4 linked regions of the Homo sapiens genome follow. The protein of the gene in region 1 interacts with the protein of each later gene in a biochemical or structural test. Each region holds a gene or a part of one and is shown in the gene's direction. Other genes may lie near its edges.

Region 1 (7,024 bases):
GAAGGATGGGAACCCAGTGAGAGTGCCTGGGCAGGAGTAGCCAGCAAGATAGGGAGGAAACCAGGAGAAGGGGCTGTTCTGAAAGCCAAGGGTGGAGTGCAGTGGCACAATCTCAGCTCACTGCAACGTCCGCCTCCTGGGTTCAAGCGATTCTCTTGCTTCGGCCTCCCGAGTAGCTGGGACTACAGGCGCGTGTCACCACACTCTGCTAATTTTTTGTATTTTTTTTTTTTGAGATGGAGTCTCGCTCTGTTGCCCAGGCTGGAGTGCAGTGGCGCGATCCCGGGTTCACGCCATTCTCCTGCCTCCCGGGTTCACGCCATTCTCCTGCCTCAGCCTCCTGGGTAGCTGGGGCTACAGGCGCCCGCTACCATGCCTGGCTAATTTTTTGTATTTTTAGTAGAGACAGGGTTTCACTGTGTTAGCCAGGATGGTCTCAATCTCCTGACCTCATGATCCACCCGTGTCGGCCTCCCAAAGTGCTGGGATTACAGGCGTGAGCCACCGTGACCGGCAATTTTTTTTTTTTTTTTTAGTAGAGGCAGGGTTTCACCGTGTTAGCCAGGCTGGTCTCGATCTCCTGACCTCATGATTGGCCCGCCTCGGCCTCCCAAAGTGCTGGGATTACAGGTGTGAGCCACTGCGCCCGGCCAGACATTTTAATCTCACAGTTCTGGAGACTAGAAGTCCAAAACCAAAGGGTTAGCAAGCACACACCCTCAAAGGCTCTAAGAGGGCAATCCTCCCTTGCCTCTCCCAAGCTTCTGCCCCATTTATTCCTGGGCTTGTGGCTGCCTCACTCCAGTCTCCGAGGCAGTCCCGACATGGCCTCCTCCCCTTGCGTCTCCCTCTGGCTTCTCTCTTCTGTCTCTCATAAAGACACGTTGTTGGATTTAGGGCCCACCCACGTCACCCAGAATGATCTCATCTTGAGATCCTACATCTGCAAAGACCCTTTTCCCGAATCACATATGTTTCAGGGGTTAGAACATGGGCATATCTTTTCGGGGGGCTACCATTCAGCCCACTACACTGGATGAGGGGCCGGTACCCTCCACTTCTCCTGCTTGGAGGTGTGTAGGGGATCAGGATTCCCAGCATACTGACATCTCCCTCCACAAACAGTCTTGTCCCGACTCTCCCATCTCTGGTGAAATTCTTCTATTTCCAGCCTGGAGCTAGGCCTTTTCAAGTCCCACATGGGTGGTCCAGCACCTCCCTTTGGAATGGGAGTATCTGCTACCCCTTAGACTGAAAACCCACTTTAGCATCCTGATACACTAGGTGAATTATCAGCATTCTGTTTAAAATGTAGCCCCAGAACTCATAGGCTTTTTCTGCTGGGTAAGGATGTGGGTCTCCTGTGACTCCCCTGCTGCCTTTCTCTTTCAGCCCTTGCCCTGTTGGATGAATAGGCACCTCTGGAAGAGCCAACTGTGTGAGATGGTGCAGCCCAGTGGTGGCCCGGCAGCAGATCAGGACGTACTGGGCGAAGAGTCTCCTCTGGGGAAGCCAGCCATGCTGCACCTGCCTTCAGAACAGGGCGCTCCTGAGACCCTCCAGCGCTGCCTGGAGGAGAATCAAGAGCTCCGAGGTGAGGAAAGAGTCAGGGGATCCAGCCCTGCTGAGGGGAAGGCGTCTTCTCCCCACCTGCACCTCTGCGTTTCCTGGGCCTGGGGTGGGGATGTGCTGCCCTCCCTCTTGGTTTCAGGAAGTAGACTCTGAGATGCAGATTAGCGGGGAGGAAGTTTAGCATGCTCTCAGGACCAGTACTGGGAAGGGAAAGGAGGGACAGGGGAAGAAGCCAGGGAGGGCAGAGGGAGAAGCACGCTGCCGGGTAGGCTCCAGGACAGCCTTGCTGGATCTTACAGGGAGCTCTGGAGCTGGAATGAACCTTCCAGGTTGGACCAACATGTCCAGGCCTCTGTGTCCCTGCACTGAGCACTCATGAAGTGCTGTCCATCCTGGGACAGGGCAGAGTCGGCGCTGGGAAGAGGCGTGGTCTGCCCAGAGAGGGGGTGGGGCCTGTCCTGGAAATGGGCGGGGCATGCCCTGGTAGAGGGGCGTGGTCTGTCTTGGGAAGGAAGGTGCGTGGCCCCCACAGGCAACATTCCTCTGGGGCAATCCCGGCGCACACCTCAGCGGAGGTGAAGGCTGACTTCCCACACCCAGTGGCTGGGACTGGGGAGTTCTTTCCTAGACTGCCATCCGGGCGCCCCTCACCCTCTTGCTGCTCAGCTCCAGGTCGTCATGGGTTCAGGGCTCAGCTGCACGCTCCTGCCCGCGCCCTGGGCGTGATGGCACCCCCAGCCCCTGCCATTCTTCCCCCTCACCCCCTCTCCCTGCCACTGCTCTGCATTGCCCTGGGTTAGCCTGGCGGGGCCAGGTGGCACCCGCCATATACTCTTGCCTTTCTGCTGCGGGGGCCTTCTAAGCCTCGGGTCCCAGAGCTGCAGGGAGGGGCGGCATAGACTCCCCACATGGCTCACTGGGTGTGGTGGGGCCTGTAGCCCTTTTTGTTTCATCCTTTGGTTCCTGCTGGGGACTCAGGCCTAAGTGTCCACCCCATCGTGGAGGACAACACCCCTTCCTTGCAGGAGTCATCCCTGAGCTGGCAGCTTCAATTGGCTCTCCGTGTCCTGGCTGGCTGGCAGCTCCTGGGCGAGGTGGCATGTGCCGTGACTACTAGAGATCGCTGTCATGGGCCCACTCCCCCGCCTTCTTTGCTGGACTGTGGTCCGAGATGTTATGTGGGGCTCTGTGCTGACAAGTCACATAGTCTGTAGGCTTCAGAGAGTGGCTCTGGCTGACACCCCGTGGGCAGAGACAAGACCCATGCCTGCGATGTGTCTCCTCTTACTGTCAAGGCAAATCACCTTTCCTTCCATGGAGGAAGGGGTCAGTGCAGTCAGCTTGCTGTCAGGGGGCTGCTTGGTCTCCTCGACGGTGAGGCTGAATTGGAGAGGCCCTGCTGGAGCATGGAGACCCAACATGACCTGCCTGTTCCAGGACAGGGTCCCCCACCTCAGTGCCATCGGCACCTGGGGCTGGAGAATTCTCTTGTACGTTGTAGGGTGTGGAGCAGAGTCCCTGGCCTGTACCTGCTAGATGCCAGTAGCACCTGTCCTGTTGTGACAACTAACAATATCCCCAGATATTTATTGCCAAATGACCCCTGGGGGATACAGTTGTCCCTGGTGAGACCCACTGTATTGGGATCTTCAAAGCACTGGTGCACAGAGAGGTGACAGTTAGACTGGGGGCTTCTGCTCATCCCCAGGAGAGTGCTCTATTGAGGGGGACTTGAGGGTGAGTGTTGCAGGCCAGCTGTGCAGGGACCCTGGCACAGCGTATGGCGCCCTTGCTTCCCTTCCAGGCTGTGTGTTCAGTGCAGCAGCTTCCCTCGGGCTCCAGGGACACAAGGAGGCCTCAAGGCTGTATTGACTCCCCCTGCTCCGCCTGACCTGAGCTTTGTGGGTGGCAGGTGAAACTTGGTAGCTCCATGTGTCAGGCCCTGGGCCAAGCCCCTAAGGGCCCAGAAGATGTCTGTCCCCCAAGATGTACATGCTTATGTCCATGGAGGAGGCTGTACTTAGAATGTTGAGGGAGAGATTCACGAAGAAGTTGCATGTCTCTAGTGTGTGACTCCACTAGTGTGAGACATGTCCAGAAGTGGCCAATCTGCAGAGGCAGATGCAGATGAGGAGGGTGCTGGGGGAGCGACTGCTTATGGGGTCCCGGAACTGTTCTGGAATTAGATAGTGCGGATGGTTGCACAACCTGATGGATACACCGAAAACTGCTGAATTAGTTAAAATAGTGAATTTGATGTCATGTGAATTTTACCTCAGTTCAGAACATTTTTTAAAAGACAAGTTGCCAGCCAGGTGCAGTGGCTCATGCCTGTAATCCGAGCACTTTGGGAGGCCCAGGCGGGGGGATCACCTGAGGTCAGGAGTTTGAGACCAGCTTGGCCAACATGGTGAAACCCCATCTCTACTACAAAAATTAGCTACAGACGTGGTGGCGGGCACCTATAATCCCAGCTACTTGGGAGGCTGAGGCAGGGAGAATTGCTTGAACCCAGGAGGTGGAGGTTGCAGTGAGCTGAGATCGCGCCACTGCACTCCAGCCTGGGCGACAGAGCGAGAGTCTGTCTCAAAAAAAAAGACAAGTTGCAGATGAGCTGAGCTTTGGGCAGAGCAAGCGGGATTCTGATGGGGGGTGGATGTTGCGCTCGTCAGCAGGCAATAGTTAGTTGGTTGAGGGTTTTGATCACGGGGTAGCTACTGCCTGCCCCATTTTATCCAGCTCTGTAGTTGCTATAGAGTTGCTAGAACCTTGGCACATCACTTATCAGTTTTGTCACCTCAGATGGCTTCTTCACTACTTGGGGTGTCTCCTGGGTGTGGGGCTCTCCTTCCTGTGGCCTCTGCTGACTGCCTGGCACTGGCACACATGCTCTGGTGAGGGGAGGACCAGCGGTTTTTCCCGTTTGTTTTCTGCTTCCTCGTTTAACCCTCCTCGTCTTGTAAGATGAATGTTCTTGTCTCTGTTCACTATGCAGATGAGGACTTTGAGGCTCAGAGACGCCACTAACTTGCCTGGTCCAAGCCTTTTGGGCCTCTCAGGCTGCAGCCAGCAATGCTGCAGTGAAGTTTGCCTGGGAGGCTGACCCTAGGAGTCTGCAGGCGTGTTAGGACCCCCGATCTAGAAGACAGCAGAGATGTAGGCCAGGGAGGACCAATACCGAGCATCTGAGGGCAGGCACACCTCAGACTGACCAGAATACAAATGAATTCGAGTCACTTACAAACAAAGTGGCATAAGGCCAGGCACAGTGGCCCATGCCTATAATCCCAGCACTTTCGGAGGCCGAGGTGGGAGGATTGCTTGAGGCCAACGATGTGAGACCAGCCTGGGCAACATAGCAAGACCTTGTCTCTACAAAAATAAAAATTCAAAAAAGTGGCATTTAACACATACTTTTTTTCTTTTTTTTGAGACAGAGTTTTGCTCTGTCCCCCAGGCTGGAGTGCAATGGTGTGATCTCGGCTCACTGCAACCTCCACCTCCCAGGTTCAAGTGCTTCTCCTGCCTTAGCCTCCCAAGTAGCTGGGATTACAGGCGTGTGCCACCACACCGGGCTAATTTTTGTATTTTTATTAGAGACGGGGTTTCACCATGTTGGCCAAGCTGGTCTGGAGCTCCTGACCTCAGGTGATCCACCCACCTTGGCCTCCCAAAGTGCTGGGATTACAGGCATGAGCCACAGTGCCTGGCCAACACGTACTTTTAAGTGAAGCTGATGTGTTTGGTGTTATTTTCTTGCAGAAAGTGAGGGGCATTAGTGTAAAGGATTTTGGAAGTGTTTAAAGAAACAAAAGGGAGTGTTGAGACGCCATCCACCCCTGAGAGAAGCTGCGTGGTATTATGGCGGGTGGGGGCACCAGGATGGGTGGCCCCACTTCTGGCCTCTGACTTCCTGAGCCTCAGGCCCATGTGGGCCCAGGCAGGGCCCGGCAGGCCGGGCTGCCCAGCTCCCCTCCACTGTCCCCTCTGCCACCAGATGCCATCCGGCAGAGCAACCAGATTCTGCGGGAGCGCTGCGAGGAGCTTCTGCATTTCCAAGCCAGCCAGAGGGAGGAGAAGGAGTTCCTCATGTGCAAGTTCCAGGAGGCCAGGAAACTGGTGGAGAGACTCGGCCTGGAGAAGCTCGATCTGAAGAGGCAGAAGGAGCAGGCTCTGCGGGAGGTGGAGCACCTGAAGAGATGCCAGCAGGTAGTCGGGGCAGGGCCAGGTTCTGAAAACCCGCGGTGACGCCAGTGTTCCACAAGGGAACCCGTGGTCGGGGTCCCCCAAAGCACCCTGGGGCTCAGTGCTGTGCCGGGAGGGCTCGGAACTCAGAAAAGCCGTCACACTCCCAGTTCCGGTTTATTACAAGGAAAGGACACAGGTTACGGTGAGCGAAGGCTCAGGGCGCACAGGGCGGGCTCCAGGAGAGACCAGGCGTGAGCTTCAGCGGCTCCTCGCCCAGGGGAGTTGTGCAGACGGCACCTGTTTCTTTCGGCAACAGTGTGGGACAGCGAGCACGGAGTCACAACCGGGAAGCTCACCCCAGCCGTGGCGGCCGGGGTTTTCACGGGGGGTGGGCCGCGTGGGCACCGAGCGCCTGCGTGGCCAACCCTGGTCACTCGGCTGTAGCCACCAGAGGTCCAGCTGTGTGGCCCAAGGCTCCCCCCATAAATCGTGTCATTAGCACAGACCGCCTGGTTTCAGGGTCTTTGTGTGTGGGCTTGGCTGATCGCAGGATCCTGGCGATGGTAGTCAGGAAGGGGCCGTGCTCCCTTTGAGGGGCAAGGTGGAGAGAAGTGCTGGAGAGGAGACTTGCTGGCGGGTACCTGGCACTTGCCACAGCCAGGCTCCACTCCCCTGGGGAAAGGCGTGGATGGTGGGCTGTGCACGCCGCTCCACTCAGGGCTTAGAGCGCCTGGCTTAAGGCGTTGATTTCCTGTGTGGGAAGTGGATGAGTTTTCTACAGCTGCCGTGACCAAGCACCACAGACTGCGGGGCCGAAGCCACAGAAACGCGTGGCCTCCCGCTTCTGGAGGCCTGGAGGCTGAGCTAGCGGTGGTGTCGGCAGGGTGGGCTCCCCGCCAGGGCCGCGAGGGAGCTGCCTTCCAGGCCTCTCCACGGCGCCGGGGGCCGCCGGCTGCACCTCTCCAGCCTCCATCTCCGTCATCCTGTGGCCTTGTCCCCGCGGGCCTCTGTGCCTGTCCTCCTCTTTTGACAAGAACACCGGAGATACACAAAGGTACACAAAAGCGGGCCTTTGTTCAAGCTGGCAAAAGAGATCTTCTTCAGAAACCCCTGCTTGCGGGGGAGAGAGCTGAGCTCCGTTCCCGCCCCAGCAGAGGCGGCCTGGCCTTGCGAAGGGAGAAGGAGGGAGTCGGGAGGGGGCGAGTGCAGGCTCAGGTGAAAGATGACGGGGCAGCCAGCGTCCTTGCCGCGAGGCCAGCCGTGT
Region 2 (7,252 bases), on another chromosome or scaffold:
CCTGCCACAAACGAGCTCTGTGATTAAGCACGTGGTATTCAGATGTGGCTTTTTAAGCTAGGCAATTCATCTTGGGAACATTGACACATGGTCTGAAAAGCAAAATATTACTCTTTCAGCTATAAAAAAACTCCCGGAATCCTCATTCAGTCCCGCCCAATCCCTGATCCTTATTCTGTAACTCCCAATTCTAACATAGGGCAGACACTTAACTTTTTAGTTGACTAAATAAATAAGGGAATGAATACTGAGGATAGAAAAGGGTTGGAGGTGTCAGAAATGAAATGATGGTCAAGGAAAGAGAAAGACTCAGATGTATAGGGCATGGAAGAATGTTCAAGAATCAAAGATGTCTGCCACTAACATTTGGTAATCAAAAGCCATGACAAGCAAATGTGGCAATATATCAGTATCTGCTCAATCTTGGTAGTGAGCGTAGGGTGTTTGTAATATTCTTTATAGTTTGGTGGGTTTAAAATGTTTCCTTTAAAAAGAACAACAGTGCAGTAGCAATCTCAAAATGGCCAAATCAAAATGAGTGCATTAAATTGGCAGCATTCAATTCACTTGCTTTGATGGGTGAATCCTCCCCTTCATCAGCAGAACTGATTTGACTGTGGTAAAAACAGTTCATTCCCACACACAGATAGACCAACACAGCCCTTTTGGAGAGCACCCATATATAAGAAAAGCCATAAAATATTCATTTCCTTGGGCTTTGTACTCCTGGTTCTGGGAATTTATGCAAAGGCAATGATAATTTGAAAGGAAAAAGGATGAAAATATGTAAATTCTATGACAATTTTTTAATAACAATGAACACTTGGGAAGGATTTAAGGTGTCAGTGGGGAGTGCTCACCACTGCCCCCACCCTGGTCAAGCCATCCTAAGCTGTGCCTGGATGGCTGTGTGTAAGGAACATGGCTGTGCTTTGGTCAAGGATAGGACGAGGTAAACATCCACAGGGACTCAGCGAGTTTAGAGCGCAGGCATATAACTCCACTTGTTATCACAGCTATGTAGCCATAACATGGGAAGGCCATCCCTTGGCTCTAAGCCACTATTGTCTGTAAAAGGTATAATTGCCCTGTTGACATCGTGCAGGCGTGCTGACACCCAGAGAGAGAGAGAGAGAGCCAGAGTTGACCCTCTTGGAGACTGACAGTGGGGAGCCAGGACACAGCTCGGCTTGCTCATGCCCAGAGAGAGGAAGAGTTAAGCTGCTGACCCCGAAGGCAAGGGAGAGTCGGCCATGCAGCTGTGTGGGGGAGCCGCCAGACTAAGCACCTGAGACAGGGCAGACAGTGTAGAGAGCTAGTGTAAGAAAGCTGTTGATGAGAGCTGCTGCTGAGTAAAATCATCTTTTACCTGCCTACGGTCCCCTGAGTGTTCTTTCTGCTCATCCACCCACTCCCCTTGGACCTCAGCATGGGCTAGAACCTGACCCCAAGCATGACATTTGGCTCAGTCGTGAACCTGACATTGTGGTAGCCTCCACGTAGTCTCTGCTTCTTGCCCTTGCCCCTGCCATCTACTCTCCACTTAGCAGCCAGAGTGATCCTTTCAAAATGAAATCAAACTGCTTCCTTGCTTCATTTCAAAATGCTCCCACCACCCTCACTGCTCCACCCTGGTCTGAACCACAACCTCCTGGGGCCTGGATATAGCAATACCTCCCTAAATGGTTTTCCCTCTTCCATCTTCTTTCCCCTTAGCACAGAAGTGAAAGTGCTTCTTTTCAAATCACAAATCAGATCATGTCACTCTGCTCAGAACCTTCCAGTGGCTTCCCGTCTGACTCAGCACACCCATATGACTCAACACACAAGGAGATCATCTCCTTCCAGTTACACTGAGCATTTTTATTGGTTGCTGACTGTACTCATAATGCTCTCTCCTTATATCCACACGGTTCACTCCCTCACTTCCTTTAAGCATAAATCAAATCCCTTATCTTGGTATTGACAAGACAAGGACAGACTCCTCCAAAGTGAGCAGGGAGGTCATGACCACCCTAGCTTAAATTTTACCAATCCATACAGCCTCATCCTACTTCCCTGTTTTATTTTTTCCTCTTAGTATTTATCATCTTCTAATAAATTAAATAACTTAGATATAGCCAGGCGTGGGGGATCATGCCTGTAATCCCAGCACTTTGGGAGGTTGAGGTGGGCAGATCACCTGAGGTCAGGAGTTCGAAACCAACCTGGCCAATGTGGTGAAACCTTGTCTCTACTAAAAGTACAAAAATTAGCTGGGCGTGGTGGTGTGTGCCTGTAGTCCCAGCTACTCAGGAGGCTGAAGCAGGAGAATCGCTCGAACCCGGGAGGCAGAAGTTGCAGTAAGCTGAGATGGTGCCATTGCACTCCAGCCTGGGAAACAGAGTGAGACTCCGTCTCAAAAAAATAAATTAATTAATTATTTTTTTAAAATAACTTAGATATAGCCGGGTGTGGTGGCATGCGCCTGTAATCCCAGCTACTGGGGAGGCTGAGGCAGGAGAATCACTTGAACCTGGGAGGAGGAGGTTGCAGTGAGCAGAGATCGTGCCACTGCACTCCAGCCTGCGTGACAGAGCGAGATTCTGTCTCCAAATAAATAAATAAATAAACTTAGATAAAATTTTTCAAGTGCCTACCTCGTCTGCCCCAAACACAAATAAACTAGAATATAAATTCCATGAGGAAAGAGATTTTTATTGGTTTTGTTCACAGCTGTTTTCCTAGCACCTAGAACAGTGTCTGGCACATAGTGGACATTCAAAACACATTTGTTAAATGAAAGGATTCATCCTAAAGTTAAGGATGGTTCAGTAAATCGGATGGAAGATGATGAAAAATTAAGCAATTAGAAAAAAACTGTCCTTGTGTAATGTGTCAACATGGAAACAGGACATAATGTAAACATCAGAATCCCTTGCTGTGATTCTGGTTTTTGTGGCTCTGGTTACATTGTTTTTTTGTGTGTGTTTTTTTTTTTTTTTGCTTTCCCGTTTCTTAAACATTGGCGTTCCCAAGTTTCTCCTTGGTCCTCCTGTCATTTTTATCTACTCTCGTAGCTTCAAATACCATCTAGTTTATAGTTTATTTAGCATGTTGTCCAAGCCACCGTCTTGGGCCCAGGGCTCTACCTGTAGCTTTTCATCCACACTTCTCAGGTTGCTTCTTACACAGCGCCATAGTAGTTAAAATACGGTCTGGGGATAGTCGTCTCTTCATCAGTCTCCCCCTATAAAATGGAGGACTCATAGTATAAGTTGCCTAGAACATATTAGTAAGGACTCAATAAATGTTTGAGTAGGATGAGCTGGGTGGCTCATGCCTGTAGTCCCTGCACTTTGGGAAGCCGAGGCGGGTGGATGGCTTGAGCCCAGGAGTTTGAGACCAGCCTGGGCAACATGGCGAAACTCCATCTCTATAAAAAATACAAAAAAACTAGCTGGACTCCCAGCTGCTTGGTGGCTGAGGTGGAAGGATCGCCTGAGCCCTGGAGGTGGAAGCTGCAGTGAGCCGAGAATCGCACCACTGCACTCCAGCCTGGGCGACAGAGTGAGATCCTGTCTCAATAAATAAATAAATAATCAGTTGAGTGCATACTGTGTGCCCAACTACCTTTAAGAACTTTACATATGATCCCGGCAGCCCTAAAAGGTAAGCATATCTATCTCCATTACACAGATTAACTAATGAGGAAAAGCTATGTTTATAATGAACAGTGACCAAAAAGTATGCAAACGTTAAATGAGGTGTTAAAGTGGTGGGATTGTAGGTGGTTTCTTTTTTTCTTTCAAAAATTTGTTTAGTATTGTAGTTAGGCTGTTTGTGTGTATGCATGTGTATGTGTGTATGAGTGCGTTTGTGTGTGACCAAAACAGTAACTGGCAAACGTAACAACAGGAAATTGTAGGGCAGGGTCTGGGAAAAGGGGAGGAACCCAAGGTACTGACAAGCCCAGACCGGACTCCCCCGAAGTGAGCAGGCAGCAAAGGCTGAGAGTGCCAGCTGCCTGGGCACTGACGGACCCCACCCACGGAAACGATGCCTTATGAGGAAGCTAACCCGGGCCACTTACCGACGACCTGCGCAGGCGTGGCTTGAGGAAACGCCCGCTGTGGGCGGAGCCACCCGAAAGGCTCCGGTCGGGGGCGGGAACAGGATCGGCCCGCGGGCTGGCGTCGATAGGCTGCCGCAGAGACAGGGCGGGCTCTGCTAAGCGACGCGCCTCGCCGTGGGGCGGTGCCTGCGCCTGAGCCTCTACGAGAGGGAAGGAACGCTGCTCCGAGCTCCGCGTCGCGTCGCGTAGATTCGCGTCGCCGTCGACCTCAGAGGCGGGGCCGGAAGCGCTACGGTTTGACCCCCGAGTCCCTCTGTTCCCGAAGGGGCGGCCGTCTTTCTCCCGACCCGCTCCGCCTCCTCTCCTTCTTCCCCATTACCCGGAGGCCGAAGCCCCCAGCCAGGGCGGGGCGGCGCAGCCCGAGCTCCCGGACCCGGAAGAAGCGCCATCTCCCGCCTCCACCATGGAGCCCACCGCACCGTCCCTCACCGAGGAGGACCTCACTGAAGTGAAGAAGGACGTGAGTAACGCAGCTGTGCCCAGGGCGGGCGGGGGCGGGCTGCAGCCCAGCGGGAGACGAAAGCGGAAGCCTGGAGTCCGAGGACAAGGAGGATCCTCCAGGTCGGAGGAGCGGAAAGTCCTAGCACAGGAGGACTGTGGCGAGCCCTGCATCCGAGGGACCTTGGTGGCAGTGATCCTCCAGTGATCTGTCAATCCAGGTTTTACATCGCTAAACGCAGAGCTTGGGCTTTGTTGCCAAGTGGTGTTTTGATTCTTGCCCACTCCTCACCCATCTCCTCATGCTTTCCCCCCAACTGGGTTCTTGGAGATGCTTCGTTAGGGACTGGCGGCTCAGATTCATCCTTAAGTCAGGCTGCCTAGGCTGCTCACTCAGCCTAGAGCGAAGGCTGTACCAGGTGAAGGATCCCAAGCAGTGGACCAAAAATGTGAAGCTCTTTTGCATAAGGGGGCTTGAGGAAGCTCAACAGCTGAAAGCACAACCTGGAATTCCCCTAGTAAGCAGACGCCCACATATTTAAATTGGGGTTGGGGGAGTGAATACACGTAGCTGAGAATTAATGTACAGGTAAACGTCGAAAATATTCAGTAGCTAAATTATGCTCTTCTCGGATGGTGCAGAACCACATAAACCTTCATATTTATTCGTAACGAATGGCTTTGTTGAGATATGACATTCTTTTTCCTTTGCGTTTACTTGTTTTGTCAGATGAGACCTATATGAGTATCACTAAAATACTTTATCTGAAGTCAAATGAAAAACAGAAACTCAACATGAAACGTGTTCTTATTGAACACTGCAGTACTTTTACAAAGTCATTTTGATGAACTGGACAGGATGGCAACTTTTTAAATGTTCATCCACTTCAAATCCCTTCCTCTTCCCTGTAAGGTTTATTACACTGTACTCACAATTGGTGTGACTCACCAGCAGAAGGAAACTGGATATGACTGGGAGTTGTGCTTAGTTTCCTCATTCAACAGAGATTTATGGAGCACTTGCTATATGGAAAGCACTGGCCTTGGGTCTGGAAGGATACAAAAAAATGAAGATCAGTTTCCTGCTTTACATTCTAGTTGAGATAAGAATGGAACATAAATAACTACTGTAGAATAAATGTTGTCTTATTCATGGTGAGTGCCAGTAAAACCTTGAACTTCCAAGAGCTAGGCCTCCTATGTTCCAGATGCTGTGTCACACAGTTTACAATGTTCCCACTTAACCTTCGCAACAACCTCTAAAGAAGATAATTGCCATTCCCATTTTACAGCTAATAAAACAGGAACTGAGAAATTACAAGTGGAAGGAAATAAGATCTGTATACAAGTACAGATGTGAAGAGTGGCTTCCAGGTCTTTGTTCTTCTCTGTCAATTCATTGATGTTATCTGTCTTCAGGATTTCATTTTACGCCTATATCAGAAATAAATAACCTTGAGGAAACCATGGATGGGTTTCAAAAGGTCTATGAAAGAAACTATGTGCATGCTTTTTTCTTAGAGGTTTTTTTCATGATATTTTCAAAATGTCTTCTGATCTTAGAGAGTTTTAAAATTATCCACATATTTGGACTTTTCTCTCCACTCTAGGTCCTTATTTCCAAATGTCTACTGGAAATCTACTTTTATATCCTACAGATTGCTCACCTTGTCAAATATTGAACTTTTACTATCCTTTTCCCAAAGTTGCTTACTGTTGCTGCTGTATTGCCTTTCTTGATGAATGGTGTGCTACCACCCTTTGTCTTGGGACCTCCCACTTCTTTAGTGTCTCCCCCTCCTCCTATCTAGTTATTTGCCTCATTGTGTTAGTTGGATTTAGTACAGTTTAATAAATATGGATTACATGCTACTGTGAGGCTGATACTGTGGTTGGTTCTAACAGTTCAAAAATTAAAAATGAAAACACAATCCTAACTTGAAAAGAGCTCAATTTCTTGAGGGGGATTGTTTTAAATCACAAAATAAGTGCAGTGAGTTTTGCATTCAACTGAAACATTAACTACTTGGTGCCCTAGTAAGTGCAGGATATACAGTGTTGGCTAAAACATACCTCGTAGCTGCCTGCTTCAAACAGAGACGTTAGTTTAAAACAAATAAATAAATTTTGTTTTCATTATTGCAATTACTATGAAGGAATCAAACAGTGCCAAGACAATAATAGGGGAAATCGACTTGAGATAGGATGGTCAGGAGAGGTTATATTTAAACTGATTCCTGAAAGATTTGACAGAACTGAGGGAAGAGCATTCTGGGCAGAATAGAATTTGTCAAGGACCTAAAATAGGCAAGACCCTGGTGACTTGGGGAAATCGGAGGAAGGCAGAGGGTAATCTGAAGTGAAGTTAGGAAGGTGGGCTAGAGCCATTTTCATGAAGAGCCTTTTAGTAAAGTATCTGGGGTTTTTTTCCCCCCAAGTATAGTAGGGACTTGTTGAAGAATTGTATAGTTTAAAGATCCCTCTGCCTGTTTCATGGACTGAGGAGAACAAGAATAAGAACAGGGAAGCCAGTGAGCAGGCTCTTGGAATCTATAGAGATGAATGAGGATGGTGATTTGGATCAGGGTGAAGGCAGTGGAGATGAATGGAGCAGAATTCCAGATGCAGTTTTTGAAATAGAAATGATATGACCTGGTGATGGATTGAACATGGGAGTTGAGGAAGAGGATGTAATTAGAT
Region 3 (7,024 bases), on another chromosome or scaffold:
GGCGGAGCTTGCAGTGAGCCGAGATGGAGCCACTGCACTCCAGCCTGGGTGACAAAGTGAGACTCCGTCTCAAAAAAACAAACAAAAAAACCAAAATAAAAGAAAAATAATAGACAAAGAACATAGACAATTCAAAAAAGAAACTGAACAACATACTTCAGAAAAGATATTTGGCCTCGCCAACAGAGAAAGGCAAAATGAACCCGTTACAATTTTTCATCCATTAGATTGAAATTTTTGAAAGATTAGTGATACAGTGTGTTGGTGAAAATGCAGAATAACAAGCAGTCTTCTGCAGTGTTGGTAAGAGTGGCGAAGTTTATTAGAAGGTGAGGCACCCAACAAACTCCACAAGCCCATAAGTTTGGCTGCAGTTCTACTCTCAGTAATCTATACTGCTCACGTGCACTCAAAGATGTAGTTTCCATTCTTTGCACCTTAGTTTATAAGAGTGAAAAATTAGAAACAACTCAAATGTCCATAAGTAACTGCCCTAAATTATGATTCATCTAAACTACAGAATACTAATAGCCATTTAAAAGAAAGAGGTGGAAACTAACATGTAATGATATAGAAAGATCTTCAAGATTAGCTGTTAGTGAAAAAAATAAGTCACAAAACAATACTTACAGTGTGGTCCTTTTAATGTTAAAGATATATATATTTTGGCCTGGTGCAGTGGCTCATGCCTGTAATTCCAGCACTATGGGAGGCGGAGTTGTACAGATCACTTGAGGTGAGGAGTTGGAGACCAGCTGGCCAACATGGTAAAACCCCGTCTCTACTAATAATACAAAAAAAACTGGCCAGGTATGGTGGTGCATGTCCATAATCCCAGCTACTCAGGAGGCTGAGGCATGAGAATTGCTTGAACCCGGGAGGTGGAGGTTGCAGTGAGCCAAGATTGTGCCACTACACTCCATCCTGGGCAACAGAGTGAAACTGTGTCTCAAATATATATATATTTCTGGAATGTGTGTGCAAATTCCTAGAGAGAGAATAAGAGTGATATGCATCACACTCTGGATAAGGCTTACCTCTAGAGAATGGAAGAGTAGGTGCTGAAGGAATGTTTGGATGTTATTCTATGTGATTCTGCATTGTTTGAATCTTTGGGGGTTTTTTTGGTTTTCTTTTTGAGACGGTCTTACTCTGTCACCCAGGCTGGAGTGCAGTGACACAATCTGGGCTCACTACAACCTCCACCTCCCGGGTTCAAGTGATTCTCGTGCCTCAGCCTCCCGAGTAGCTGGGATTACAGGCGTGTACCACCACACCCAGCTAATTTTTTTGTACTTTTAGTAGAGATGGGGTTTCACCATGTTGGCCAGGCTGGTCTTGAACTCCTGACCTCAAGCGATCTGCTCGCCTCGGCCTCCTAGAGTGCTGGGATTACAGGCGTGAGCCACCATGTCTGGCCTGTTTGAATCTTTCAAAAGGACTTTGTACTTAACATATTTGTGTAATAAAAATAACTATAAAAAGAAAATCAATTTGATAAAATTAAAATAACAAAAATACTTTTCATATTAGGCTAAGCAGGGTGGCTCGTGCCTGTAATCTCAGCACTTTGGGAGGCTGAGGTGGGTGGATTTCTTGAGGCCAGTTCAAAACCAGCAACATGGCAAAAACCGATCTCTACAAAAAACACAAAAATTAGCCAAGCGTGGTGGCGCATGCCTGTTGTCCCAGCTACACAGGAGGCTGAGGTGGCAGGCTCTCTTGAGCCTGGAGGTTGAGCCTGCACTCTAGCCTGGAGGACACAGTGAGACTCTGTCTCAAGAAAAAAAACAACAAAAAACCCTTTTCATGTTAATTAAAAACAATAAACATACAGCTGGGTGAGGTGGCTCATGCCTGTAATCCCAGCTCTTTGGGAGGACAAGCTGGGAGGATTGCTTGAGCCCAGGAGTTGGAGGTTTCAGTGAGCTATGACCATGCCACTGCACTCCTGCCTGGGCGACAGAGGCAGATTTGATCTCTAAAAATAAACATGCAAAGAGACAAAAACAATATATAGAATGCTACAAAGTGTGAACATAATTAATACCCTCTGTCATTCTCCCCTAGATCATGCATGTATTCATTTAGCTAGTATTTTTGACCACTTATTTATATAGCAGACAATCGTTAACAGCAAAATACAAATAAAACTAGGAAAAAAAAAACTTGAAGGAAAAATACCAAAGTGTTAACATTTTATCTTTGGGTGTAGGGCAAAACTATGGATAGGTTTTAAGAATATATAATTTTCTATGTTTTCTATAATGAGGATTATTGCTCCTATAAGGAAAAAGTTTTTTACTGTGGCAAAATATACTTAACATAAAATTCTCTATTTTAACCATTTTTAAGTGAACAATCCAGTGGCATTAAGTACATTCATAATGTTGTGCGGCCATTACCACTATCTATATCTAGAACTTTTTTATCATCCCAAACTGAAACTCTGTACCTGCTAAACGGTAACTCCCCATTCCTCCCTCTCCCAGCCCCTGGTAGCTTCTATTCTGTTTTCTGTCTCTGAATTCTAGGTAGCTCCTAGCAAAAGGATCACACAATGTATTTCCTTTGGAGTCTGGCATATTTCACTTAGCATAATGTTTTCAAGGTTCATCTGTTTCATAGCATGTATCAGAATTTCATTCCCTTTTATGGCTGAATAACATTCCATCATATGGATATACAGGTTGAACATCCCTAAACCCAAAATCCAAAATTCAAAATCCTCCAAAATCTGAAACGTTTTGAGTGCCAGCATGATGCCACAAGTGGAAAATACCACACCTGACACCTCTGCTTTCTGATAGTTCAGTATCCTCAAACTTTGTTTCATGCACAAAATTATTAAAATATGGTATAAAGTGACCTTCAGGCTATGTGTATAAGGTGCATATGAAACACAAATAAACTTCATGTTTAGACTTAGGTCCTCTCCCCACGATCTGTCATTCTGTACATGCAAATATTCCCAAATTGGAAACAATCCAAAATCCAAAACACTTCTAATCCCAAGCATTTTGGATAAGGGATACTACACCTGCACCATATTTTGAGTTCCTGCCTTCAGTTCTTTGGGGTATATATATCCGGGTGTGGAATTGCTAGATCATATGGTAATTCTATGTATAACTTTTTGTTTTTCTGAGACAGAGTCTCCCTCTGTTGCCCAGGCTGGAATGCAGTGGCACCATCTCGGCTCACTGCAACCTCCGCCTCCCGGGTTCAAGCGATTCTCCTGCCTCACCTTCCCGAGTAGCTGGGATTACAGGCATACACCACCACGCCCGGCTAGTTTTTTGTATTTTTAGTAGAGATGGGGTGGTTTCACCATGTTGTCCAGGCTGGTCTCAAACTCCTAACCTCAGGTGATCTGAGGTCCCAAAGTGCTGGGATTACAGGCGTGAGCTCCCATGCCCGGCCATGTTTAACTTTTAAGTACTGTTAAAATTGTTTTACATGGTAGCTACACCATTTTATATTCCCCACCAGCAATGCACAAGGATTCTAATTTCTCCACCATCTTACCAACACTTTTTATTTACCATTTTTATATTATAGTCACTCTAAGGAGTGTGAAAGTGTACCTCATGGTGGTTTTGACTTGCATTTCCCTATGACTCATGATGTTGAGCATCTTCATGGCTTATTGGCCATTTGTATATCTTCTATGGAGAAACTGCTATTCAAGTTCTTTGCCCATTTTTGAATTGGGTTGTTTGTTTTTTGTTGTTGAGTTGTAGGATTTTTTTTTTTTATGTTCTGGATTTCATCCGTTTTCAGATATATATTGTTTGCAACTTTTTCCCCATTATTTTATTTTATTTATTTATTTTTTTTTTGGAGACAGAATCTTGCTCTGTCGCCACCCAGACTGGAGTGCAGTGGCAGAATGTTGGTTCACTGCAACCTCTGCCTCCCAGGTTCAAGAGATAACTCCTGCCTCAGCCTCCCGAGTAGCTAGGACTACAGGCACACACCATCATGCCTGGTTAGTTTTTGTATTTTTAGTAGAGACAAGGTTTCACCATGTTGGCCTGGCAGGTCTCGAACTCCTGACCTCATGGGATCCACCTGCCTTGGCCTCCCAAAGTATTTTTTCCTTATTCTGTAGGTTATCTTTTTACTCTTTTCATAGTATCCTTTGATGCACAGAAGCTTTTAATTCTGATGTATTATTTTTACTCTTTACTTTTGTTTGTGCTTTTGTGTCATAACCAAGAAATCGCTGCCAAGTCCAATGTCATGAAGCTTTTTCCCTGTGTTTTCTTCTAAGAATTTTTGTGGCACTAGCCCTTAAATTAAGTCTTTGATCCATTGTGAGTTAATTTTTATATGGTATGAAATAAGGGTCCAACTTCATTATTTCATATGTGTATATTCAGTTTTCCCCCATCGAATGCTCTTGGCAACCTTGTCAAAAATCAATTGGCCATTTATAGGAGGGTTTATTCCTAGGCTTTCCATTCTGCCCCACTGGCATATGTGCCTGTCTTTATGCCAGTCCTACGCTGTTTTGAATACTGTAGCTTTGTAGTAAGTTTTGAAATCAGGAAGTGTGAGTCCTACAACCTTGTTCTTTTTAAAGATCATTTTGGCTATTTGGGAAAAACATTAATTTTAAAAAATTACTACTTGTAAGATCTGTGTGAAATTTCTACCTTCTGAAAATATGAATTCTTCTCGTTAAAATTTTCTGGGACTCTATTTCCTGCTGTTCACTAAAGTGTGTATTTATGCTCTTAATTATAGAAAGAGTATTCAAACGAAAATGCAGTTGTGAAGAGAATGCAGTCTCTTCAACTTGATTGTGTGGCAGTACCTTCAAGCCGGTCAAATTCAGGTAAATTACACTATGGTCAAAATCTATTCATTTATTTGTTTGGTTACTCATTCACTCCACTCTCTAAAAGACTATTCAGGACCATATGGGAAACAGAAGAAACTATAAAAGTGAACACCTGCCTTACAGGAATTTATAATAATATTCGAGAGTCAAGTTACATGTATTTGAAATATGAAGTAACAGTGTGCTCACCAGTCATAGAGTGTTCTGAACAAAAGGCCTAATATATCTGATGGGGAGAAGTGACAGTTCAGAAGAAGGAAGGGGACATATGTGAGAGCAAAGTCCCTGAGGAGCTCGGAGTGACTTACAGCCAGGGTACAAGCAGAGAGGCTGGTCTCAGGTCAAGTAGGGATACTTTTTTCACTGTAACAAAAGGGATGGCAGAGTATAGGATACTGAAGCCGCTTAGCTACCTGATCTGTGGCTAATTACTTAACCTCTTCTAAACTTCACTCATCAAATCATAATTGCTCCTCCTCTCATAGGGCTCTTCAAGAATGAAAGAATTCATGGGACATGCTTAGGACAGAGCTGCTGCAGATCTTTTTTTTTTGGAGACAGAGTCTGTCACCCCGGCTGGAGTGCAGTAGTGTGATCTTGGCTCACTACAACCTCCGCCTTTCAGGTTCAAGCGATTCTTCTGCCTCAGCCTCCCAAGCAGCAGGGATTACAGGCATGCACCACCATGCCCGGCTAATTTTTGTATTTTCAGTAGAGATGGGGTTTCGCCATGTTGGCCAGGCTGGTCTCGAACTCCTGACCTCAGGTGATCCGTCCGCCTCAGCCTCCCAACGTGCTAGGATTACAGGCGTGAGCCACCGCACCCAGCCACAGATCTTATTTTCCACCTGAATTGCTCCAAGGAGACAACCACCTTCTCTGCTCCAAACCAAGTCCCTTTTTTCCTTGATCATCCCTGCAACAGCCGCTTTTCTCTTGCTTGCTATAATTTTCCTAGTACTCTCTTACTGCCAGCGAGGAGCTCCTATTATTATTTGTAAAGCTTGTGGGAAGAGGACCATCTCCTAAATGCTTTGGACTGGTCTCGTACTTGTTTTCTGTGTGTTACTTTGAGATACAGATTCATGACGGCGCTCAGATTTTATTTTACTTTTTAATGTTTCATGACACCCATTCTAATGTTGATCATTTCTTCTCAGCCACAGAACAGCCTGGTTCACTGCACAGTTCCCAGGGACTTGGGATGGGTCCTGTGGAGGAGTCCTGGTTTGCTCCTTCCCTGGAGCACCCACAAGAAGAGAATGAGCCCAGCCTGCAGAGTAAACTCCAAGACGAAGCCAACTACCATCTTTATGGCAGCCGCATGGACAGGCAGACGAAACAGCAGCCCAGACAGAATGTGGCTTACAACAGAGAGGAGGAAAGGAGACGCAGGGTCTCCCATGACCCTTTTGCACAGCAAAGACCTTACGAGAATTTTCAGAATACAGAGGGAAAAGGCACTGCTTATTCCAGTGCAGCCAGTCATGGTAATGCAGTGCACCAGCCCTCAGGGCTCACCAGCCAACCTCAAGTACTGTATCAGAACAATGGATTATATAGCTCACATGGCTTTGGAACAAGACCACTGGATCCAGGAACAGCAGGTCCCAGAGTTTGGTACAGGCCAATTCCAAGTCATATGCCTAGTCTGCATAATATCCCAGTGCCTGAGACCAACTATCTAGGAAATACACCCACCATGCCATTCAGCTCCTTGCCACCAACAGGTAAATGGGTCTTCGATAGTCACAAGCTTGTCTTTTTTTATTTTTCAGAAAATACAGCAACCAAGCAGCTCTATTATAGATTGTGGGTTATAATGGGGACAGAGGGCATCATCAGCTGCCAGATGCAAATTGCCCCTGTGGAATGGACCCTGCCAAACCACTTGGTCTGGGAGTATTTCATCTGGGGCTAGGATTCATCACAGATGCCCGCAAGCATCGGGTTACAGGTCCTTGTGACTGGCAGGCATCTTTGACTCTAACCTGGAGTGCATAGTAGTCCTATTTCACCCAATCTCTGATAAATGGGAAGTTATCTGCTTATTTGCTTTTACCTTGCTTGCTACTTTTTGAAGGTAAGAAATCAGTCTTGGATATTTTTGTTTCTGACCTTATATAGCTCAAAGACTACCATTAGTGATGAAAAATTTTCTTTTAACTCCCATAT
Region 4 (7,079 bases), on another chromosome or scaffold:
CTTATCAAAAAGAGCTTTTAGGTGGTCAGAGTAAAAGTCCTCAGACAGAATGTTCAGTTGCACTTGGAATTTCCCTTCCCTAAGAGATAAGCACATCTCAGAGATGGAAGACCTCAGCCCGTTATCCATGGATCAAAACACTGTGCTGGGCTACTGTGGAGAAAGCGCCTGTGACGTATCCTTGCTTGTGCGGATACCTGGTCCAGTTAGCCACTTGGCCTGGTGTTCATTCTGAATGCCCATATTCACAGGATTAGTGGGAAAATGGCTGGAACCATGGGAGGTTGGATGGACATCTGGGAGTTGCCATTTACTAAGATGGGGAGTGCAGAGGGATTGCAGGGGGTGGTGGTGGTGAATATCAGGAGTTCGCTTTTGGCTGTGTTGAGTGGAGATGCTGAGAAGGCAGTAGGATATAAAAGAGACACCAAATTTGGAGAGACTGCAAGTAGGAGGTACCCCGTGGTAGGCACTGGGAAGCATGGAGCAGGGTCTAGTCAATAATCATGACCGGTGCCACTGAGCAGGTTCCCTTGAGTCCTGACGGTGTGTTACTCTATGTCCCATGCCCCTAGCAGGCTACCTGGAGTTCACCGTCCTCCGTGGGGAAAGCTCCATTCAATTCAATAGCTTTATGTTAGGGTCCCGCTGTGTGCAATGAGAGAACTACATAAGACAGCTTAGAATCAGTGTTAGGTCAGGCACAGTGGCTCATGCCTGTAATCCCAGCACTTTGGGAGGCAAAAGCAGGAGGATCACTTGAAGCCAGGAGTTCAAGACCAGCCTGGGCAACATGGTGAGACCCTCATCTCTACTCAAAAGAGAAAAGTTAGCTGGGCATGGTGGTGCGTACCTGTAGTCTCAGCTGCTCAGGAGACTGAGGTGGGAGGATCACTTGAGCCCAGGAGACGGGGGCTGCAGTGAGCTATGATTGTGCCACTGTACTCCAGCCTAGGCAACAGAGTGAGACCCCATCTCAAACAAAAAACAAAAAACAAAAAAAGAACCAGTGTTATGTTCCCTGCAAAACCCTTCACAACTTCCCATTGCTCTTGGGATGGAGAACAACCCCTGTCCTTGGCTCCCAAGGCTCTTTTGTGCCTTCATTGTCTGCGCTCTGCCTCTTCCAGTTTCTTCAACAGGTCATGCACTTTCCTGTTTCCTATTTCTGGAGTGTTCCCCCTCACTCCTGCCTGCCAGTTATCTTTCCCATCTCATCTCAAAGGTGACTTCCTCAAACAGGCCTTCCCTGAGTGGCCAACCTCCCTTTAGGCATGCTCAGAGAGATTCTTCTTCTGAGGCTTACCACAGCCATAATTAAGTAAGTGATCATCTAATGAGTATTTTAGTTTGCCTTTTTTTTTTTTTTTTTTTTTGCCAGAGGGAGTGTGGCATCTCTCTTGTACACTGCTATGTTTCCTGGAACCTGCTCAGTAACACAACCGCTAGTTCCATGAACCCAGGACCAGGCTGGATGGAAGAGGCTGTGGGGTGGTGGATTGAGAGAGGTCATTAGTGAGGGCTGGAGCCCTCTGTGAAGACATGTCTGTAAAGGACTTTGACTAGGTCCTCCATGAAGGGAGGATTTGGAAGGCAGAGATGATGAGCATTTCAGTTGGGGAATCCATTTTAACAGAGGTGGAAAGAGTCTTGGCTTGGAATCAGGGTCTCGGCCCATCTCCTGAGTGACAGGGGCTTGTAATTTACTGTCTTTGGGCCTTCATCTACTACCTGTAAAATGAGAGGCTGGTTCACCAAGGACTGCAAATAATAGCACCATGACACTATCTCCCCATCTTATCCCCTGGCAGATATCTCTCTTCCCGGTGAGCCTGAATATAAGTTCAGAATTAGCTTTAACGCAATGTTCTAAGCAGCCATTCCCAATTGATAGGAAATGATAATTGAGATAAGCCCCATTTGTCAGGCTTGACTTGGATGAAGATCCCTTAGATGAAGTCAGGCCCCGGCACTGATTCAGTGAACGTATGACAGGACAGAGCCTGGGGACGAAAGCCCTATGGAAGTAGAGACCTCAGCAGCACCAAACACCATCAACAGAAAGGACACAAAAATAGGCCGGGCACATTGGCTCATGCCTGTAATCCCAGCACTTTGGGAGGCTGACGCAGGCAGATCACTTGAGGTCAGGAGTTTGAGACCAGCCTGGTCAATATGGTGAAACCTTGTCTCTACTAAAAATACAAAAATTAGCTGGGTGTGGTGGCAGGCACCTGTAATCCCAGCTACTTGGGAGGCTGAGGCAGGAGAATTGCTTGAACCTGGGAGGCGGAGGTTGCAGTGAGCTGAGATCGCACCATTGCACTCCAGCCTAGGCAACAGAGCAAGACTCTGTCTCAAAACAAAGAAACAAACAAACAAACACCCCAGCAACAACAACAACAAAAACAAAAAGAAGGGACATGAAAATATTCTAGTCCAGAGTGGCAAACTCAGATGCCTTAAGGGACCAGTGGATGTAGATCGTGCAGATAAGAGAAGTGGTCCCAGTGGTAACATGAGAATGTTTGCCTTGCCTAAAAGGACCCCAAATCTCTCTCCTTCACATTCTTTTCTCCTTCCTCCTTATCGTATGGGTTAGGCAAAAACAAATTTCAGCTGAAATTTTCTTCCAGACAGTTGGACTGTGACCTCTGAGTCCTACCAGCTTTGTTGGAGAATCCAGATGTAGATGAGAACGGTGTTGCCTAAGGCCACACTTCAAGCCAGGCCCGTTGATTTCCAACTTATGGCTTCCTACAGCAGTGTGGTCATGAAGCCTGGAAAACAGGAAGATAGGAGTGACAAAAGAGGGACAGGAGTAGAATGAGGCTTAGGTTTTCAAAAGATGCTCATTTCATTTTGGATGACTATGGCAAGGAAGAGTGGTGGCCTGTCTACTGCTACTGTTAGTCATCACTCATGTGACTGTTTTTATGTATTCATTGGTTTAAATTCCCTGGATCTCCAGAAACATGTCACTTTCCACTGGGGGAAATTTGTGTCATGATTAAAAACACACACACACACACACACACACACACACACACCCCTCCTCCTTTCTCAGTGTTAATCACCTTCTCCTATAATTAGCACTTAAAATGTCAAAGGAGAAGAAATTAATTAACAGGAGTATCCAGTGCAGCAAGGCTCTAGGACTGATTATAAAAAGCACTTCCTTAAATATTTTGAGTGCTTTTGGGAATCAGAAGCCTCCCTTCTAATTGAAAGATCCTTAACTACACCCTAAGTCCTGGCTGGTGGCCAGGGGTGCGGGGCTGAGTGAGGCGGCGTGTGGAAATCCCTTCTTCACCATCCTTGGGAAAATTCCCTCCAAACTGGGATAGGTGGCAACAGAGGTTCGGAAACAGCAAGCGTCCCAGGCTGAATCTGCGGAGGAGGAAGAGATGAACCTTTCCTGAGCTGGTACTGCGTGCCAGGAACTTTAGCTCGGTATTTTGCCACAATCCTGTAAGACAACCGATACTATGATCTCCATTTTACAGATGAGGACATTGAGGCTCAGCGTGGTTGTGACTTCCTCAGGTCACGCAGCCACTGAATGAAAGCGCCAAAGATTCAAACTGAGGTCTGATTCTAAAGCTTTGCTCTCTCACGGCATCCTGGAATCCTATTTCAACCTTCATCTGGACTCTTAACCCAGCCCAAACCTAAGCGTCTACAGTTTTGACAGCTGAGGCGGGAGCACGGGAGGCGGAGCTGGTGGCAGCGCAGCGCCCCGCCCCGGCTCCAGCATCAGCCAATGGTGACGCGGCACCCACAGCCTTTCGCCCAATCAGCTTGAGCTTCCCGCCTCCATCCGCCGCTCTTCTCTGCCCCGCCCCTTCGCTTTCCCTTTGGTTCCACCGAGCTTGACAGAGCGGAAAGTCCCTTCGGCCGGCGCCGGGCTGGCAGCCATTGGAGGAAGGTCTGTCACAGGGAGGCCCAATCACGGCCCGCTCAGGAGCGCAGCTCGGCCTACGATTGGCTAGCGCGGCGGCTGCCCCCTCCGCCCCCGCTCCCTCCCTCTTCCCTGTGCGGTTCGGAGGCGGGGCAGGTGGGGGCGGGCCCAGGTAGCAGGTTTGGCTGCGCGGGGGCCGCGCGTCGGAGGTAAATACTAGGGCGGTGGGTGTGGGGAGCCGGGGCCGGCCCGGGACGCGGGCTGGGGAGCCGGGGCGAGGGGCGACGCCCCGCCGCCCGAGGTTAGTGAATGAGCGGGCGGCTGGCGGCCGGCGGGCGGCCGGATCCCCTCGGCGCAGCCGCCTGGCCTCAGGGCGTCCGGAGCCGCCGCGGCGACCATCGGGCCCTCGGCGCCGGCCCGTTAGTTGCCCGGGCCCGAGCCGGCCGGGCCCGCGGGTTGCCGAGCCCGCTGACGTCAGCCCGGGTTTCCCCCCCCCACCGGGGCTTCCCCATCCCCCGAGGCTTCCCGGGAGGGCTGCGAGTCCGGGGAGCGTGCGGGGTCGCCACCATCGGGACCCCCAGAGGAGAGAGGACTTGGGGCGGGAGCCGCGCGGGACGCTGTCCCCCTCCCGCCCCCCACCCCATTTACAGATTGGGAGACTGAGGCACAGGCCGCTGGCGGGCCCCGACGGCCACGGTTGGCCTCAGGAGCCCGGGGCTGTGATTCCTACCGACCGCGCCGCGGGGCGTACGTACCGATCGATTTTGCGGGTGTTGGTGGCTCCCGTCCAGGAATGGCAGTCGGGGTTCTGGCCTTGTTAATGGCGTGTTCTGCTTTTTCTTTCAGTTTCCCCCTTTCTAGGGTGAGGATGGTTCTACACAGCCACCCGGAGTTCCTTAGTTGAAAGGTGCGCCCTGCTGTGACAGGTATTCTTTCTTTATGTTTTTCTTTCATGTTAACAATCGAGGGGGGTGGGGGGCGAATGGGGGGCGGGGGCGAAGTCATGAAATCTTCAGGAGATGGTGTTGAGTTTGGTACTCAGCTGGGTCAGCTGCCGGTTATTCATGTACTTGGCATCGTTTCTCTTCCACCCCTTGGCATTTGAATGTTTTAGGATAGTTGTCATCTTCCAGCCACCAAGCCTGTGGCCTTGCAGTCTCCCAGCCCCCATCATCCCTGCCACCTTCTTCTCCTCAATTTTTCCTGGAAAGTTTTATCCTTAGCTCAGCTAAGGAGCATGCCTACCTTGCTTTTGAATTCGGGCTAATTAGGGATCTTAATAAGATTGTTCATTTTGCAATCATTGGCTCTCAGAGAAGCACCCAGGCCTTGAGAGGGTGTTCGTTTGATTGTTGGCTTTCTACACACCCCCTCACGCCCCAAGTAGACTGAATGGCCTTAAGAATTTAGCCTCCCATTCCCCACTGAGCAGTAGGTGGATTTGAACTAGAACAGTATTAGGAGAAAATGATTTGCTGGAAATTCTTATTGAAGTAACACCCAGAACATTCTCTAATATTCTGCTGCAAAATTGTATAGTATTCTTGCAAATAAACCTTCCTCTGGGTGGTAACTTTTGTGAGAAGCAGATAAGGCTTGTTATATAAAGCACAACTAACATTAAGCAGCAATGATTTTTATAGTCTGGCACACCTAAACTGTGGTTTTGTTTGATTTAAGGAAGTCTCCAACACAGGGAGAGAGAAAGGAATAGTTATGTTGTTTATCAAACTATTAGTATTTTGTTCCTGATTTTCACACTATGATTTAAATTAGTTTTTTTTTCATTGGTTGTACAGAATTTATAAGCATCATACATGCTAGTTGAGGCTGTAGGAAGCTAGTATCAAATAAACCTCAAAACAACTTGGTTTCGTAATTGTGAAATTTTCCGTATTTGTTTCTTCTTATATGTATAACAATGAAGTGGTTTAGCATGATTTCATTTTATCTAGAGAATTACTGAAGTTTTAGGCAAAATTCATTAAATACTCCCAATTCCTGAGTCTTTTTCTCTTCTCTTTCTCTTGGTTTAATCCCTTAAACAGGAGGAGGAAATGCAATTTTGTTTTCACTGTTACCACTTGAGTCTTTCATTCATTTCTCTGTATTCAGTGCCTAGCATATGCCAGGCTCTCGTGTGGGCACTGGATAATATAAAAATGAAGGACTTGGGGAATTCACAGTTTGGCAGTGGAGTGGCTAGGTTTAACACTAGAGAGGCAGCAGTATTCCTTGTTCCAGTGGGAATATGCAGATGTGAGAGGCTCTTCTTTTCTTTTTTTTTTTTAACCTTATAAATCCCACTTGTATTAGGGACTGTGTACTTGTGACACAAATTAGTCATTGAGGAAAATTAAAACGGACTCAGTCTTTTTTCTGGCCACGGAATCTCTGTATCTCTATTCTTTAGCTGTTTAGAAATATAACAACTTTGTCTTTTAGTGAGAGATGTTCTCTTTTAAAAGGATGATCATTCTAGCTATCCAGAAGCTTTTGGAAAAAGGCCCACATGTCTTCTTTCTTTGGTGTTCAAGCTGACCTTCCTACCTCTTTGCCATTTATAATTAGGGGCAGAATTAAGTATTGTAAGTTTTATTCTAATTTAAATAGCTTCCTGTGGTTTTTAGAACAAGCAGGATATCTTTGGAGATGCAAAAAGCTCTTGAATTGGATCTGTCTTTGTGAGATCCTTATGAACAATATAACCTGATAACTTGAGAATCAGAAAAACACTGCATCTTCTGGATAAGTTAACCATTGTTAGTTTTCTGTAGCTACTGATGTTCATTTGTACTATATGTTGCCTTTCAGAATGTGGTAATTGTAATCTTTAACATTTTCATGTAAAACATATTTCCTGATCATCTTTCCATTGTCTTCATGGAAAATTGATAAATATTTGTGCCTTCCAACTCTCGTCTTGGTTGAATGACTTCATCTTAATACAAGTAAGTTCCCCTTTACTCAGAATCCAGACCATCAACAAGCTCAGATAACCAGAAATGTTTTCAAATCTATGTGAACCTGAACTGTTCTCCTTCATCAGCGTCCTTAAAGGAAAGGCCTTCTGTTCAACATGGCTTTAGGGTTAAACATATTATTGTGTTTCAACTCGTTGGTAATTTTCATTCAGTATTTATTACCAAGATATTCATAATCACACAGTTATCCAGCC

Evidence for each region.
Region 2: the proteins of IKBKG (region 1) and BCL10 form a complex in vitro, tested with the Homo sapiens proteins (3 studies listed by BioGRID).
Region 3: the proteins of IKBKG (region 1) and RIPK1 form a complex in vitro, tested with the Homo sapiens proteins (4 studies listed by BioGRID).
Region 4: the proteins of IKBKG (region 1) and CYLD form a complex in vitro, tested with the Homo sapiens proteins (3 studies listed by BioGRID, with this or other methods).

The regions. Positions count from the first base shown.
Region 1 is NC_000023.11:154,550,596-154,557,619, forward strand, and holds part of IKBKG (NF-kappa-B essential modulator), read left to right. Parts: intron 1-1,392; coding exon of another isoform or gene 1,393-1,407; coding exon 1,408-1,594; intron 1,595-5,569; coding exon 5,570-5,781; intron 5,782-7,024. UniProt on the Homo sapiens protein: Regulatory subunit of the IKK core complex which phosphorylates inhibitors of NF-kappa-B thus leading to the dissociation of the inhibitor/NF-kappa-B complex and ultimately the degradation of the inhibitor.
Region 2 is NC_000001.11:85,273,618-85,280,869, reverse strand, and holds the start of BCL10 (B-cell lymphoma/leukemia 10), read left to right. Parts: upstream 1-4,237; 5' UTR 4,238-4,517; coding exon 4,518-4,574; exon of another isoform or gene 4,575-4,854; coding exon of another isoform or gene 4,855-5,070; exon of another isoform or gene 5,071-5,704; coding exon of another isoform or gene 5,705-5,707; intron 5,708-7,252. UniProt on the Homo sapiens protein: Plays a key role in both adaptive and innate immune signaling by bridging CARD domain-containing proteins to immune activation.
Region 3 is NC_000006.12:3,099,473-3,106,496, forward strand, and holds part of RIPK1 (receptor-interacting serine/threonine-protein kinase 1), read left to right. Parts: intron 1-4,752; coding exon 4,753-4,843; intron 4,844-5,949; exon of another isoform or gene 5,950-6,009; coding exon 6,010-6,579; exon of another isoform or gene 6,580-7,024. UniProt on the Homo sapiens protein: Serine-threonine kinase which is a key regulator of TNF-mediated apoptosis, necroptosis and inflammatory pathways.
Region 4 is NC_000016.10:50,738,015-50,745,093, forward strand, and holds the start of CYLD (ubiquitin carboxyl-terminal hydrolase CYLD), read left to right. Parts: upstream 1-4,071; 5' UTR 4,072-4,110; intron 4,111-4,141; exon of another isoform or gene 4,142-4,202; intron 4,203-4,290; exon of another isoform or gene 4,291-4,363; intron 4,364-4,400; exon of another isoform or gene 4,401-4,648; intron 4,649-4,656; exon of another isoform or gene 4,657-4,733; intron 4,734-4,747; 5' UTR 4,748-4,827; intron 4,828-6,715; exon of another isoform or gene 6,716-6,852; intron 6,853-7,079. UniProt on the Homo sapiens protein: Deubiquitinase that specifically cleaves 'Lys-63'- and linear 'Met-1'-linked polyubiquitin chains and is involved in NF-kappa-B activation and TNF-alpha-induced necroptosis.